2 separate regions of the Homo sapiens genome follow, and region 1 is linked to region 2. The links come from fine-mapping of genetic effects on gene expression. Tissue or cell type: whole blood. Region 2 holds a variant in brackets; the other region holds the start of a gene. All regions are shown on one strand. Distances are between the middles of the regions.

Region 1 (8,105 bases), 230 kb before region 2:
ATCCTCCCACCTCAGCTTCCCAAGTTGCTGGAACTAGAAGCACATACTACTATGTCTGGCTAATTTTAAATTTTTTTGTAGAGATGGGGTCTTGCCATTTTGCCCAGGCTGGTCTCAAACTCCAGGGCTCAAATGATTCCCTTGCTTTGGGTCTCCCAAAGTGTTGGGATTACAGGCATGAGCCACCTTGCCTAGCCCAGAGCATGATTTTCATAAGGAATTAAACTCAGGGGTCTAAACTCAAGATACCCACCTAGCTCCTGGTCTGTGACTTCAGGATGTTCATGGTGGAACTTTAGAGTTCTGCACCTTGCCCTTCGGCCCTCTCCTTCAGCAGACAAGGTGGCCTCTTCCAGTCCAGGGTTCGTGCCCCCAACCCACTCTAGTTCCCATCTCCTCTCATCCTCAGTACCTGTTCTATCAATGAACCATCCCTTCCTCTCAACCTCACCTACCAACCCAGATGCTTGCCTGCCCACACATTTTTAAAGAAGCCTCTACCCTTACCTCCCACTTGCTAGACAGCTACATTTCTGAAAAGAGTTGTCCACGCTTACTGTCTCCCACTCCGTCCTCAACCCACCGCAATCTGGCTTCCAATCCCTCCACTCCATCGAGACAGCTCTGGTAAAAGTTATCAGCCTTCTCATTGTCAAATGAAATGAACACTTGCTTTCTGGTCCTTTCTTGATGAAATTTCCTGTGACATTTGTGAATGTTGCTCATTCCTTCCTTGTAAAAGCAATTTCTTCCCATGCCCCCTGGTTCTCCTCTGGTTCTCTTCTTCTCATTATTCACTCTCCCAACAGCTTGAACTGGCAAGAAAGACAGTGCAGGGTGGTGAAGAGCCTGGACTCCAATGCTCCTTGATATGGTTTGGCTGTGTCCCCACCCAAATTTCATCTTGAATTCCCATATGCATTCCCCTGCACAAACTCTCTCTCTCTTTGCCTGCTGCCATCCACGTAAGACATGACTTGCTCCTCCTTGTCTTCTGCTGTGATTGTAAGGCTTCCCCAGCTGCGTGGAACTGTAAGTCCAATTAAATGTCTTTCTTTTGTAAATTTCCCAGTCTCACGTATGTCTTTATCAGAAGCCTGAAAATGGACTAATACACTCCTCTACTCACTAGTGGTTGGCCTTGGGCAAGTTACTCAACACTCCTGTGCCTCAGTTTCCTCAACTGCAAGATGGTGTAAGGCTTTTTAGTCTCATTGTTTTCCATGTCTGAACATGCATCATGTTCTCAGATCATGCTGAACCTGGTAGAGTCACCCACATATATTATGTGTTCATGCTCAGTCTTTACTCAGGCACTTGGGAGTGCCCAGCCAGTATCTGTGAATATATGCATGAACACTACTCTGGATTGGGTTTCCCCAGAAGTATACCTTGAGACAAGGAGATGGGTGCAGTTACTTTATTTGGGATCCCAAGAACAAATAAGGAAGTGAGAAAGTAAGGCAAGGAAGGGAGAAGAGGCAAAATCAAAGAGTGACTTAATGAGGGAGTGACTGCTGGGGGCAACTGGACTCATTCCTACTGGGGAATTCCTCTGAGGAACTGCCTTGAGAGCATTTGAGAATTGATCTTCCTTAGGGAAGGGGAGGCTGACACATTCATCCACTGTTTGGTTAAGGACTGACCCAGGGCTGTTGGAAACTTCCAGGCTAGGCAAGATCCCACAGCCCTTGAGAAAGCCTCCTGGTAGAGAGGAGAAAGGGGGCCTGCTTTGGATAGACAGTTTCTCTGTACAGAGGGCAGCTCATTGCAGCTGCCGGTGAGCTCAGAGGTGGGCCCAGGGGACATGGAGCCGAGCATCACTAACACTCACGCTTGTTACTCTGGTTGGCAGGCCTGTGCCCCCTTATCTAGCTACATAGGTCCCATCTCCTCCTTGAAAGTTCGTTCAAGAGCACCCACTTCTTGGAAGCATTTTCCAACTTATCTCCACCCTACTCCACCTTCAATGTTCTGAATAGCCCTGGATACCCTGGACATGACTCTATAAGAGTACTTATCTCTCTGCTTACTAGATAGAGCTTTCCTGTCTTTCTTAGCAAGAATAGTTCTTTTTCATCATTGCACATGTAGGGCCCAGATTTTTTTAGCACATTACAGGCACTTAACCGATGCCTTAAAATGAATTCAAGTTCACCTTGCTCAGGGACCCACTCAGAGCAAGTGGTCAACAAATGTGGACTCCTTTCCTCCATCTGATTTAGGAGAACAGTCATCTAGTGAGTATACAATATGACAAATATATTCTTTAAACAGAAATGCCAAGGAAGCACAAAGGAGGGAGTAATTAACTGGGACTATACCAATGAGACTATAGTTACCTCATTTGACAGTCTTAATTACTTAGGTTTTTTTTTTTTTTTTTTTTTTTTTTTTTTTTGAGACGGAGTCTCACTCTGTCACCCTGTCTGGGATGCAATGGCATGATCTCAGCTCACTGCAACCTCTGCCTCCCGGGTTCAAGCGATTCTCCTGCCTCAGCCTCTGGAGAAGCTGGGATTACAGGTGCCCACCACCACGCCCGGCAATTTTTTGTATTTTTAGTAGACACGGGGTTTCACCATGTTGGCCAGACTGGTCTCAAACTCCTGACCTTAGGTGATCTACCTGCTCGGCCTCCCAAAGTGCTGGGATTACAGGCGTGAGCCACCGCGCCTGGCCTACTTATAGTTTTAGTTTTCCAGAAGCACTAATAGAGCCATCTGGTGCTCCTTCCACCGCACTGGGCGTTCCCTTTTGAATCTCTCCACCAAAGAGGAAGCCACAGGGAGCTGCGGGACCGAGTGAACCACCCTACCTCAGGCAGAGGTCCCATCTGCAACTCTAGTTTGTTTGCTTCTTTCATTTATTCAACACGTGTTTATCGATGGTCTCATATGGGCCAGCACTGTTCTAAGGAAACAGGCAAAGGTACTGCTGTAATGCAGTTTACCCATGCAGTGGGGAGAGTGGGGGGCAGATAAAAAATAAGCAACCAATCATGTAGGCTACATTAAACAGTGACAAGGGCTATGAAGCAATCAAACAGGATGCGCTATGTTTGGGAGAGGTGGAGGTGGGGTGTAGGTGCCAGAGACAAGCAGATCACATGGTTGGGGAAAACCTATCTGCGGAGCTGACTTCTGGGCTGTGAGCTGCGTGCCAAGAACAGCCATACAAGGGTTCTTCCAGGCAGAGGGGACGGCAGCTACAGTGGGCCTGGAGCAGGACCCTGGGACTCCTGGTGCCCAGCTCAGAGCTGTCCTACTGCTTCTGGCCACGGAGAGAGAATTGCAGAAAAGGAACAATGCTGGGTCTAAAACTGGTATCTGTTCCTTACTTGGAGTAAACGAGCTGGTACCCAACTTTCAGTTCCCAGCAGGTTCATTTCAGGCTTCTGTTTTCGCTCATGAGCATGTTGTTCCCTCTTCAAAGTCTGATTGGGTTTCAAAGGAATCTGAAACACTTACAGCAAAACCACCAAGCTGCATCCTCCAGGTAGACACCCCCGAAATGTGGCATTTCCGTGGGAAACCACAATGAATCACTCATTGGCTGCCCGACCTCTCTGCCCAGTCAGAGATTGATTTTGGTTTTCCCAAACTTTGTAAATCCGCTCCAGACTGTTTAACAACCCCCACTCCCCACTACACCCAGACTCTCAGATTAGGAGCAAAATCCCAAATTTTGTGAGGTTTTCTGTTTCGGATTTCACCAGAAGGGGGTCTGCCACAGCCACTAACCATTTCCTCTGCAGAGAGCCGTTTCTGAAATGCTGCAAAGAAAAACAATCACCCAATGATTAGGAGGGAAATTAAGTTCTAAAGAAAGACTACTGTCTCTGACTTTGAAAGTAGACATAGATATGCACAATATACATCCCACAAATTAAAATCCTCCTTTCTCTGATGTCTTTTAATGGTAATAATAAGGACAAGCATGGCTATCATTTATTTGGGCGTTTCCAATGTGCCAGTCCCTGTCTAAACATTCAGCTTCCAGATCAAACCTATGAGGGTGGAATTAACATCCATTTCATAAATGGAAACTGAGGCTCAGGAAAGTTGAGCGAGTTACTCAAGGTAACATGAGTAGAAAAAAGGCCATATTCCAACCGGACACAGAGCCTGCAGCCCACACAATTACTCTCCATACTGTTCCTATACTATCCTGACTGGGAAGGTCCTGTTCCCTTGGCACTGGGCAAAAATAAAATTATAAGAGCAGAGAGGAAGTGGTGAAAGGGGGCAGCCTGGTGAAATCATTCCTTTACTGAAAATAGGGGTAACGGCCAGGACAGTGCAGGTCCATCCTCTGCAGATGGAAGACAGGCACGTCCTTTGCCGCTGTCCCGGCCTTAGAAAGGCACCTTCCGCGTCCAGGGTTTTCTGTGGATAAATCCCACCCCTTCCACCTCAGGCGGGGAGGAGGCCGGCCGGCCGGGGCATGGGGCGGAAGGCGAAGGACGCCCGACCCCGGCCGAGGTCTGGGGCCCCTCCCACGCCCCCCTCGTGGCTGCCGGCGGGCCAAGGGTTAAGCGAGGCGGGAGCCCCCGGCGCGGAGCGGCTCGGGGCCGGGAATGCTTAGTCAGGATTCCGATTTCCTGTCGAAGTGTTTGGATTTCCTGAAACCCGCGCCCTCCGCCGCCGAGCGGGATCGTGCGAGCCGCTCGCGTCGCCGCGGCCTCCTCCCCCTCGGCACATGGTCGCCCGCCCCTTCCTGCGCCGCGCTCGGCTCCCGCGCCTCGCCTGGCCTGGCCGCTGCCGCGGGCGAGCACTGTGCGCTGGGCAGCCCCGGGCCCGCGCCTCCCGCCCAGCCGGCGCTTCCCGGTCGCAGTTCGCTTTCCCACCCGAGAGCCGCGAGCGCCCGGCCGAACCCGCGATGGAATAATGCCCAGCGGCCCGCCAGGTCCCGGTGAGTTGCGGGGCGCTCGGGCGCGCTCGGCGGGGCCGGGCGGAGTCGCCCACAGTCGCGGGCGCCCCCTGCCCAGTCTCTCGCGCGAAGAAGGGCGCCGGGACGGGGCGCGGGGCGGGCTCCCGGCTCCTCTCGCAGCGGGGTGTCCTTCTCCGCGGGGAGGGCGCCGGCCCTGGGCTGGGGCGTGTGCGGGACGCGCGGCCAGGCTCTGCGGGGCCGGGCGAGGCCGCCCGGTGGGGGGGGGAGGTCTCCTCGCCTCCAGCTCGGGAGAGGGGGCCCCTGCAGTGGGGCCGGGGACGGGGCCCGCCCTGGGGGGTTTCGCGTCCCCCTCCGGGGGAGGGCCCGGGACGACGTGCTTGGCGGCCCGGACCCCGCCGATGGGGCGCCCTCCCGGCATTGTCTCTGGTGCAGCCGAGGAAAGTTCCCCGCGGCCCCCGGCCCCTACCCGGACCCGGCGCTGCTTGGCAGGCCCCAGGCCACTTGCCTAAAGCAAAAGAAGAGAAACGAAAGGGAAGGGGGTGGGGGGAGTCCTACTTGGAGCTTGGGGTTGGCTCCTGGGCGGACCGTGAAGTGGCTTGTGTTTTCTGCTTGTACCATTTTGGGACCTGCTGCGTTTTCTGAGAGCGACATGAAGTTTCAAAGAAAAAAGAAACTTGCCGGTGTCCGGTTTTCTGCGGTTTGATACATCCCAAGAGGTTCATCTTGGGCACTTCTAAAGCAGTTTCCTTTAATAATGTGGTTTTCCAGTAGCTCAGGGAGAAGGATGGTCAACTGCAGACCATCATCGTTAACTTGACCTCAACTTTACCTGTACTCGTCAGGAAAGCAAAAGAACTTTCTCTCGCATTTTCCCCTGTCTACTCTGTTAGGTTATCTTGGCGTGATTGATTCTGGGATGACATCAGGACCTGGATTGCTGAGTAATGTTTTGGGATTGTAAAAGCTTATCAGTTTTTAGGCCAGGGTTATCTGTATTGCAACCTTCATCCCAAAGCCTTTCTGTTTTGCAATTGTAGCGCGGCCAGATAGCTTTAAGAAAATGCGGGTCTTCTGGAAACACCCAGTGAACAGTTTGGAAAGAAAAAGATCTTTGAGAACAACTGATTCACCCCCTTCAGAGAAGGCCCAGAAAGGTGACCTGACTTGCCCAAGATCACATGGCCAGGAGTAGTTTCCACTTCTTCAGGCTCAGTCCCATGCCCCTTCTGTGTTAGATTTTGATCTGTTAGCCATGAAACAGATTTGGAAACGTCTTCTTTGCGTCACAGCCTTCACCACTTTAGTGCCTTCTCTTCTGTCCTGTTAATGCTGCTATTTTTGAGATATGCACTTATTTCAAACTGCATATTTTGAGATAGGGAGTTAAAAAAAACAAAAATCACCTAACGCCACTAAGTGGATTTGGAGATTCAGCTACCAAATGGATTTGAAGTATAAAATGAGTGGCTTATTATACGGGGAATTACTTTCCCTATCCCATTCTTTTGTGCAAAATAGAAACTCCCAGGTCCAAAAAAGGGCAGTATCTTAGCACATAATGTACCCTCTGATGTTCTCTAGACTTGATTTTCAGCCCTCCTGTTTCTTGTGAGCTAAGCAGCCCATCTATTTTTCTCATGAGAGCTCTGAATGGCTGGTTTTTCATTTTTAGTATGTGATAATGTTGGAGAGAAAGGACTTTTCGCAAGCTTGCCATTTGGTGAGGGAAATTGAAATTCTCTACACCTCCCCAGTCCTCACCAGCCACAGCGAGCCAGATTTTCAAAATCAGTGCAAGCCTGGCAGGCCCAAAGATGAATGTGTGCATTCAGATTGAGCCCTCCCTTGTGAAGACTCACGTCCCAGCTGGCATCTCCATGCTGCACCTAGGTGACTGAAGTCTAGAGGAAAGAAGGGAACCCCAGTTAGCTAGGACAGTGTTGTTCCTGCCATTTCCCCACCTAGGTCTCAGCCGTATTTGGATCCTGCTGCTCGGTTCTCATTTTTCCCTGCCGTTTTTTCACCCAACCACTGCTGTATCTGGCATGGGCTCCGGAAGGTCTTTTCTAGGAGACTGCATGAGTGATCCCCACGTGAGCAATAGTAACAGTCACCCCATTTATTAAGCACTTGCTGTATGCCCTAGACATGTTACCTCCTAAGAAGTCCTAAGGAGGAGCGGAAACTTCTTGGGGAGCCTTGCCCAGAAAGGACAGCACATCTCAGATTTATCTGGAATCGAGTTTTTCTTTCATGCATCCAGTGAAACATTTGCTAAGTGGCTTCCCTGTGGGAGGTGCCAGTCCTGCAAAGATGAATAGGACCCTGTTCTCAAGGCCTTCTATTTCCAGCCTCATCTTTCAATGTCAGCCTCACACTTTCTCTTTTAATTCATCAATTGAACAACCATGCATTGAGCACCTGCGCCATGCTAAGCCCTGTGTGGAGTCCTGATGATACAGTGGTGGACGAAATAGACCTGGCACTGCCCTTCTGGAGCTTGCATTCCTCTGGAGGAGATGAGCAACAAGGAAGAAGCAGAAGAAACAACCTCTAACAGATGAGTGATTCCTTGTTATCAAGGAAACAAACCTGGGACCAAAGTAGGGGCTGGTGGCACAAGTTGGTCCTAGTTTTGGAAGGGAAAGCCTTTCTGAGATTGGAAAATGGAGAAGGAACTGGCCAGGCAGAGAGATTGCAGGGGAGGGCCTTCCAGGCAGAGGGATGGGAATGTGCAAAGTTGACTATGCACAAAAGAGCTTGGTGTATTCCAAGGAGTGAGGGAAGGCAGGGCTAGAGTGTAAGGGAGAGATGGGGGGAATGGCGCAAGGTGAGGTTTGAGAGGGAAGCAGGGACGAGATCACACAGCCGATTCTAAGCCATGCTGGGGAGAGTCCCTCCACCCAGTACAAAGGGAAGCTTTGGTGAGTTTAAGCTCAGCAGTGATATCTGATTGACTCTTTTTTTTTTTTTTTTGACAGAGTCTAGGTCTGTTGCCCAGTCTGGAGTGCAGTGGCATGATCTCAGCTCACTGCAACCTCTGCCTCCTGGGTTCAGGTGATTCTCCTGCCTCAGCCTCCTGAGTAGCTGGGATGATAGGCATGCACCACCACACCTGGCTAATTTTTATATTTTTAGTAGAGACGGGGTTTCGCCGTGTTGATCAGGATGGTCTCAAACTCCTGACCTCAGGTGAGCGACCATGGCCAGCC
Region 2 (8,105 bases):
ATTGGGTAGGGATGCAGAAGTGAACCATAGGTAATCCCTGCCTCTTGCGGTCTGGTGGTAGGAAAAGATCTGTGTGTGTGTGTGTGTGTGTGTACATATATACACACATATATACACATATATACACATATAATATACATATATACGTGTGTATATATACGTGTATATATACATATATACACATATAGGATGTGGTAGAAAATACTGCAGTAGAGGTACAGAGAATTGTGGGCAAGGAAGGATTGTTTCCAACTAAAGGAAGACTTTATAAAGAAAAGTAATTTATTGTAAAGCCTTTAAAAATATGACCAAAAAAAACCAAAAAAAAAGATATGACTTTGATAAATATCTATTTATTCATTTATTCATTATGTAAATACTATGCATCTACTGTGGGCCTCCCTACAAATTCATGCTTCTCTGTGCGCCACAACAGAGGAGGGAGGTGGAGAGTTGAGTACAGGCATCTGAAATGCTTCCAAGAGAACGTGGTATGCATCACTTCCACTCACATGGCCTTGGATGGTGCATGCCATATTTCCTGCCTTACTTTGAGAGTATGGGGAAATGCAGTACTCCTTTCTGTAACCCTGCAAGGATTGGGAACTTGGATATCCATGGCAAGTGGTAATGTCTGCCACAAGAGTCACAAGATCTGATGCACAGTATAACAGTGTTGCATTGGATGCTGTGTTGGTACCAGACTGCTGGGAGGCAAAAGTAGCAACAGAGAGACCATTTCAGAAGCAGAGTGTATTTGCCATTGCCACAGATAGGGGACTGTGAGAAAAAGAATGGGAAGAAGATCAAGAGTTTGGTTTTAGACATGTTAAGATTCAACATAGTTAGTGGAGATACTGAATAGGTAGTTGAATATATGTCTGTATTACAGAGGGTGGGTTTTTCTGGGCTGGGGATATCAATTTAGGAGTTATCAGCTGATAGAAAGTATTTAAAGCCGTAAGACTGAGATCCCAAGAGAGTAAGCAAAAATAGAGAAGAAAGGTCCAAGACTGAGGGGCCTCAACATGATGAGGTCAGAGAGATGAAGAACCAGCAAAGACAATGGAGAGGACCAGTCGTGAGGCAAGAGGACACTCAAGAAAGTGTGATATCCTGGAAGCCAGACAAAGAACATGTTTCAAGGCAGTGGGGGTTATTGTTTATGCAGTATTTGCTCTACTGAGAAACTTTTATATACTTTATGTCAGCTCATCAATACCACAATTCTGTAAGTTAGATATTGGACTCATTTTATGGATTGGAAAACAAAAGCTCAGGGAGGAGAAATTTTCACAAATTAATGTTTCTCATGTGCACCTAATTCATCTGATCCAATTCTGAACATTTTGCAGCAAGAGCTGGACTGTGAAAAGCATTTTACAAATACTATTCCTCAGACCTGGAACTTAGACAAAATTAAAGGAAATGAAGATTAGTTGCAGGGAAAGAAACCTGTTAGGACACATGAATTTTTCTTTTGCAATCCAAGATTGTTTTTCCAAGGAGAATTTTCTACTTTTTCAGGTAATCATAGTTTCTTTCTTCCTTTTCCCTTTCCTTTCCTTTTTCCTTTTCTTTCTTTTCCTTTCCTTTTTCCTTTCCTTTCCTTTTTCCTTTCCTTTCCTTTCCTTTCCTTTCCTTTCCTTTCCTTTTTCTTTTTCTTTTTCTTTCCCCTTTCCCCTTTCCTTTCTTTCTTTTTTTTTGGAGATAGGGTCTCATTCTATCACCCAGGCTGGGTGCAGTGGCACAAGCACAGCTCACTGTAGCCTCGACTTCCCAGTCTCCAGCAGTCCTCCTGCCTCAGCCTCCCAAGTAGCTGAGACCACAGGTGCATGCCACAATACCCAGCTAATTGTTTTTTGTTGTTGTTGTTGTTGTTGTTTTGAGACAGAGTCTCACTCTGTTGCTCAGGCTGGAGTGCAGTGACGCGGTCTCGGCTCACTGCAAGCTCCGCCTCCCAGGTTCACACCATTCTCCTGCCTCCGCCTCCCGAGTAGCTGGGATTACAGGCACCCGCTACTACACCTGGCTAACTTTTTTGTATTTTTAGTAGAGATGGGGTTTCACCGTGTTAGTCAGGATGGTCTCGATCTCCTGACCTCGTGATCGGCCCGCCTTGGCCTCCCAAAGTGCTGGGATTATAGGCGTGAGCCACCGCTCCCGGCCCTACACCCAGCTAATTGTTAATTTTTTGTAGAGACGGGGTCTCGCCATGTTGCCCAGGCTGGTCTTGAACTCCTGGGCTCAAGCGACCTGCCTACGTTAGCCTCCCAAAGTTCTAGGATTACAGGCGTGAGCCACCATACCCAGTCAATCATAGTTTCTTAATTGCTTGAAAATGTGATGTAATTTGACCCCTCAGCCTATGAGGAATTAGTGGATTAACTGGACTATAAATGAGCTAAATTCTATGAAAGAAAAAGGGAAAGGCGAGGTGCGGTGGCTCACACCTGTAATCCCAGCACTTTTGGAGGCCGAGGTGGGCGGATCACAAGGTCAGGAGTTTGAGACCAGCCTCACCAACTTGGTGAAACCCTGTCTCTACTAAAAATACAAAAAATTAGCCGGGCATGGTGGCATGCATCTTTAATCCCAGCTACTCAAGAGGCTGAGGCAGGAGAATCACTTGATCCTGGGAGGCGGAGGGTGCAGTGAGCCGAGATTGTGCCATTGCACTCCAGCCTGGGAGACAGAGTGAGACTCTGTCTCAAAAAAAAAGAAAAAAAGATAAAAGGGAAAATCTTCCTTAGTAGAGTGAGTTAGAATATTTAGTGTACTCCTAACCTAACCTTTGGGACATGTGCAATAAATAATTGATACAGTTTATGCTTCCATTTTGAGAATTCGTAGTGATCGGTGTTCAAAGTAACTTTTCATTGTGGCAAATAATAGTTCAGACTCCTTTCTTCTTCTTTTTTGTTTTTAGATCATGTACAAAATGAAGAAAACTATGCACAAGTTCTTGATAAGTTTGGGAGTAATTTTTTAAGTCGAGACAACCCCGACCTTGGCACCGCGTTTGTCAAGTTTTCTACTCTTACAAAGGAACTGTCCACACTGCTGAAAAATCTGGTAAGACATTTCATATGTGAGTAAAAAGAATTACAGCCTTTCCAAAATATTACGTCATATAGAGAACATTTCAATAATCCTTCCCCCTCAATCCTTGGTCCTAGGGGTGAGAAAGAAAAAACAAAAAGCTTTTTAGTCCTAGGTAACTTCCACACCTCAACTAAAAAGCTTTTTAGTCGCCTAGGATTTGCTTAAAGAAAATCCCATTGTGAAATTCCTGGAATTTGTACCTTTGGCCCAGCTGATAGAGTAGATTTATCGAAGCTGAGAGAGAAACTGCTTAACCTGAATTCTCTTCCACATCTCTACCATTGATTTTTTTTTAAAGATAACCTTTAGCAACTTTTGCTTTTTAATTGGCTAAAAGAATGATGATTTCTGTGTCGAACATACATTGGAAATACACATTGAAAGTATTATATCTCACTTGTGTGAAGGTGATCATGCATTTTGGTTTCTGATATATAAATAATGAACCTCCCTCAACTCCCCACATCCTTTTAACCCCCAACCAAGAAAAGGGTTTTGAGATTTAAGGAATCTCTGGTTTCCAAAGTAAATGACAGGAAGAATCCCTAACGATCTGAGACACTAGAGGTGCTGGCCCCGGGAGGCAGACCCAGGGATGGGGGTGGTGGAGGAAACTGTTTGCCAGGCAGTCGTGTGTGGGCATCCCCATGTTGTGCTGCAACCCCCTCCCCAGCCCTCATACCATGTGCACACTTAGAAAGGTTCTGGGTAACACCACCTGGACGGATCATTTGGATTTTGTTGGTTTTGGGGGATGAAATTATTTCTCTAAGAGCCACCCAGTGAAATAATTTAATCCTCCTAAGTCCCCAGAGAAAGGAGTACAATGAGGTTGAAAGGTGCCAAAGGAAAACTATTTATATCATGCTTTTCCAAGTTAGCCCTGCCCTGGAGAAGAGGAGCTGTTCCCTCTTCTCTCCCAGTCTCTTGGTATTGTGCTTTTACCTCCTTTAAGGATCCAGAACTCATTCTCAAGATGTCCTTAACCTAGGTCAGTTATTCATGTATCACATAGGCTTCTGTGGCCTTAGGTGATAATTTGTCATAATCCATTAGATACAAAAGGTTAGTTTACAGATGAAGATAACCTATTTGAAAAATGAAAACTACCTTTCTACACTCCATTAACCTATTTGGCCAGTTACAATATTCTTTTTCTCTGTCACAATAAATAAACGTGTGTATGTGTCTGTCTTCCTGACAGTTTTTCTAATTGGCGATGTATGCCATTGAATTAATCTTACACAGCGAATAAGCAAATCTGAAAGAAAATAAATATCGAACATAGAATTATTTATTATTTTCAAAAACTTCGGAAAGGATAATTTTGAACTTTGGCTCTAATGTTTCTGTGCTTTTGGATTTAACAAATCCATGTTTTTGTAAATCTTAGATTATATAAACCTCATTTATTCAGAAGAGCACCCTCGGTTTTCCTTCACTCTGAGCATTGCCTGCACTTTCACTGGAGGCCTTGCTCAAAGTGTGGTGTGGTAGAAAGAGAGGAAGCAAAACAAGACTGACAGTTCACTTTGGTAATAGCTGGTAAAGGACTTGCTTGGGCAGGAAGATCTGTTTTCTCTGAGATGGGTGTTTTCGCATTGATGTCTTGCTTTAGTTTCCAAGGACCAAATGTATTGGCTTAAGTCAAGAGTCATCACCTCCAAGGTTCCTGGACCAATCTCATCTCTACGGTTTGCTACGCTGCAGGTTCCTTTCAACTGTGTGTATATGTGCCATACACACAGCTCAGTGGCCATTCAGGCCAACATTCATCATCTGCGTTTGCTCACCTAATACATTTGTTTGTCTCCATACAAAACCATCTGAGATTTATTGAATGTTTTTGATGAACCTGGCAGTTTGGTGGGTGTGTTATGTAGATTATTTCATTGAAGACATTACAACAATCCTGTGGTTACTGTACCTTTAATCCAGATGAGGAAACTGAGGCAAATTGAGAT[A/TA]TATAACTTGTTCATTTACCCTATTAGTATGTGTTACAGACTTGAACCCAAACATTCTGTCTCTGAACCCGTTGCCTTTGCTCTTCTACAATATCCTGCCTCTGTCACCTCATGCTCTGGTTGTGCTGTTTCCCTCAGCAGAAGTACTGATCAAGCTACTCCCATATACATACCTCAAGCTACAGCCCTTTTTCCACACCCACTCCCCTTTAAGGAGTAGAAGTCTAAGAAAAATCTAAAGGAAATTGCTGGAAAACCTAATTCATTTAGTAAAGGAAAACAAATTTTGCCTTTGAAAGTGGTGGTGGCATTCCTGGTGAGGGAGCCAAGTAGAAGAATCAGTTTCTACTGTAGTTTGGTTACTAAGAAAACATTATTCTGATTGAATAAAAGGCAGTCCCAGGAGTTTACACAACTTGACAACAGCCAGCAACTTTCTGCTTCCCTTTTTATGCTTTTCCTGGAAAGGGAAGAGCAAACTAGACAGATTGATAGGGCCACACCTTGGATTAGAGGGCTCCCAGAAAGCCAACTCACCCCGAGGGGGTCAGGGTTCTGGATCTTCGTGCAGCACCTGCAGCCCCCAGCTGAGCAGCACTCAACACCCTCCTGGGGCTCAGGAGTACCCCCGTGGGAACCCATACTTCTCAGAAGATTCCCAAAAATCCTGTTCTCTTAGGCTAGTGAAGGCCAGAAACGTTAAGCAAACTGATACAGTAGAAATTAAAGAGAAGGTGCTTTGGTACTTTATAGACTTTGTAAATTGTATTCCCAGTTCAACCAGCAAGTACCAAAAGTCTATTATGTTCGAAGGTCTATGCTAAATACTAAAAAATGTCATTTTCTAATTAAGTATTGCCTTTGAAGAGTATTTTAATAGTTTATACTAAATCATTACTTATTTTTATGGAGAAAAAGGAAAGGATAGATTTGCGGGCCAGGTCTCATACTAGCTTTCAGCTTTTGACTAACTCTGGATGAGAAAAACATTTGTTATTTGTTCGATGTAAGAAATCACTATTGCAGGTGTATTGTGTTTATCAGTTTCTGGGGCAGTGGTCTTAAAAAATATCAGTGCACTAAATGATGGTAACTATCTCAACCATCATTGAGATGCTTCGGGTTTTTTTCCTTTTTCTGAACTGTCTGTGATTATAGAAAGTACGATCAAGTGAGATGTTATGTGAAAACTCCCAAGGGCTACCTACAAAGATGTTGGCATTAACAGTGCATAGGGCTGAGGCTGTTTTTAATTAACCATACGTCTGAGGACTGCGAAAAGGATTGCACTTACAGCTGATTACTCTGTGAGCCCATACCGCAGTTGATGCACCAAGTCAGTTTTAAAGTAACTTGCTTTTCTTACTCCCCCCTCCTCCACATTATAGAAAATTGTTCCTATAAAAAGTTTTTCTACCTTGTAACATAGGATTCGAGAGGCTATGAAGCATAGGTGGTTGGAGGATCATGGGTTTTGGTCCCAATCACACCTGGAATCCTAGTTTCCGCCTCACCAGCTTTATAGCCTTTGGCAATTCACTTAACTTTTCTAATGCTAGTTTCCTTGTCTCTAAAAATAAATAAGAGTGACTGTTTCTTGGTAGTGGCAGGGTTTCATTGAGGTCAGAGAAGCAAGTCACTAAGCATAATACCTGACAAAAAATTTGTTTCACAAATACAAACCTTAATTGTTATTTACATCTTCTCATTTTATTTTTAAGGTAACTCAGTGTAAAGACAGCTATCAGTCATATCCCATTTTAGAGATAGATGCACCAAATCTTCAAAAAATATATACCTGCAAAATGGTGCAATTAGGGATTGAGCTCAAGCCCTGTGGCTACAGATTATGCCTTGTTTCAGTGATGCTGCCCCACGAATTACATTGCCTTGATGGATTATGTGGATGGTAAAGGCCCACCTGACACAATGACCAGGGCCTGTCCTGGTGATAATTAAACTAATGTGTGTGTTTAGCGTGCAAGGTACTTTCTTGGTTGTTTTTGTCCTTTGATTTCTCTCATTGGTGAGTTATAGCATATTGGAAAGAGTGAGAGTGTTAGATGGTAGTTCTCAAACTTTTTGGTTTTAGGACCTCAGTCTTAAAAATGACTAAGGACACTATGTGGTTTCTGTTTATGTGGACTACTTCTATTCATATTTACTGTCTTAGAAATTAAAACTGAGACGTTTTCCATGTGTATTATGTATTTTAAAATAAACCCACTTTAAAAATCTATTTTTATGGAAAAATAACTATTTTCTCAAACCAAAAAACATTAGAAGGGTGGCATTGTTTAACATTTTTGTAAATCCCTTTAAAGCCAACTTAATAGACGGTAGCTATATTTTCATGTCTACTTCTGTATTCATTTTGTTGCAATTTATTGTTTTAGTTGAGGTAGATGGGAAATAAGGCCTCATACAGATCTGTATTGGGAAAAGAGAAGAGTATTTTAAGAGCCATTTCAGGTAATCTTTGATACTACATAAAAACTTCATAAGTAGTCCTTCCTTAAATGTTATTAACGGTGTGAATCTGAAACCATGCAAATGAACATTATTTGGAAACTGTCAGCTCGTGGCAAATTCAAGTTTTCCAAAATTTTAGCTTCCACTGAAAGCTCTGTTTTTATCATTAGCAATAAATGCTATCAGTTGTTTACCTCGAGGTGATAAGCTCACTTCATTCATTTTCAAGAAAATGTTTGGCAAATACTGGAGTCCGAATAACCATAGTTTGCTAGTCTTTCTTTCAAAAAAAAAGGTGTTCCACTAAAAAAACAATGCCAGTTAGTTCAACTTGCAACTCAAAAAATTACATAAGTACTTTTCCTCAAAACAACCATCATATTTTGGTATGCCTAAAAAGGGCTTTATGCATACTTCCTATTTCATCAAACAGAACATTGAAAAGATGCATTTGAGGGTCAAGATGTGATAAAAATCCATTTTTACTTTTTCATTATGGGTATTCTTAAATGAAAATAGCCTTTCTTTTTTTTTTTTTTACTGTAAGAGCAAGACCATGAAGAA

Evidence for each region. PIP is the estimated chance that this variant, and not a neighbour inherited with it, causes the effect.
Region 1: it holds the start of ASAP1, and the variant in region 2 is fine-mapped to the expression of ASAP1 in whole blood (TOPMed, PIP above 0.99).

Annotation. Positions count from the first base shown.
Region 1 is chr8:130,440,269-130,448,373 of GRCh38, reverse strand. It overlaps ASAP1 (ArfGAP with SH3 domain, ankyrin repeat and PH domain 1), which reads left to right and starts at 4,700. Exons shown (of 30, transcript NM_018482.4): 1 at 4,700-4,914. RefSeq lists an enhancer at 1-131 and silencers at 4,616-4,715, 4,756-4,845, 4,856-5,015, 5,066-5,145.
Region 2 is chr8:130,209,526-130,217,630 of GRCh38, reverse strand. ASAP1 (ArfGAP with SH3 domain, ankyrin repeat and PH domain 1) reads left to right here. Exons shown (of 30, transcript NM_018482.4): 5 at 2,930-3,075. Among named protein-coding and RNA genes, the nearest start is that of ASAP1-IT1, 83 kb to the left of the region's middle. The variant A/TA (reference allele first, on the strand shown) is at 5,070.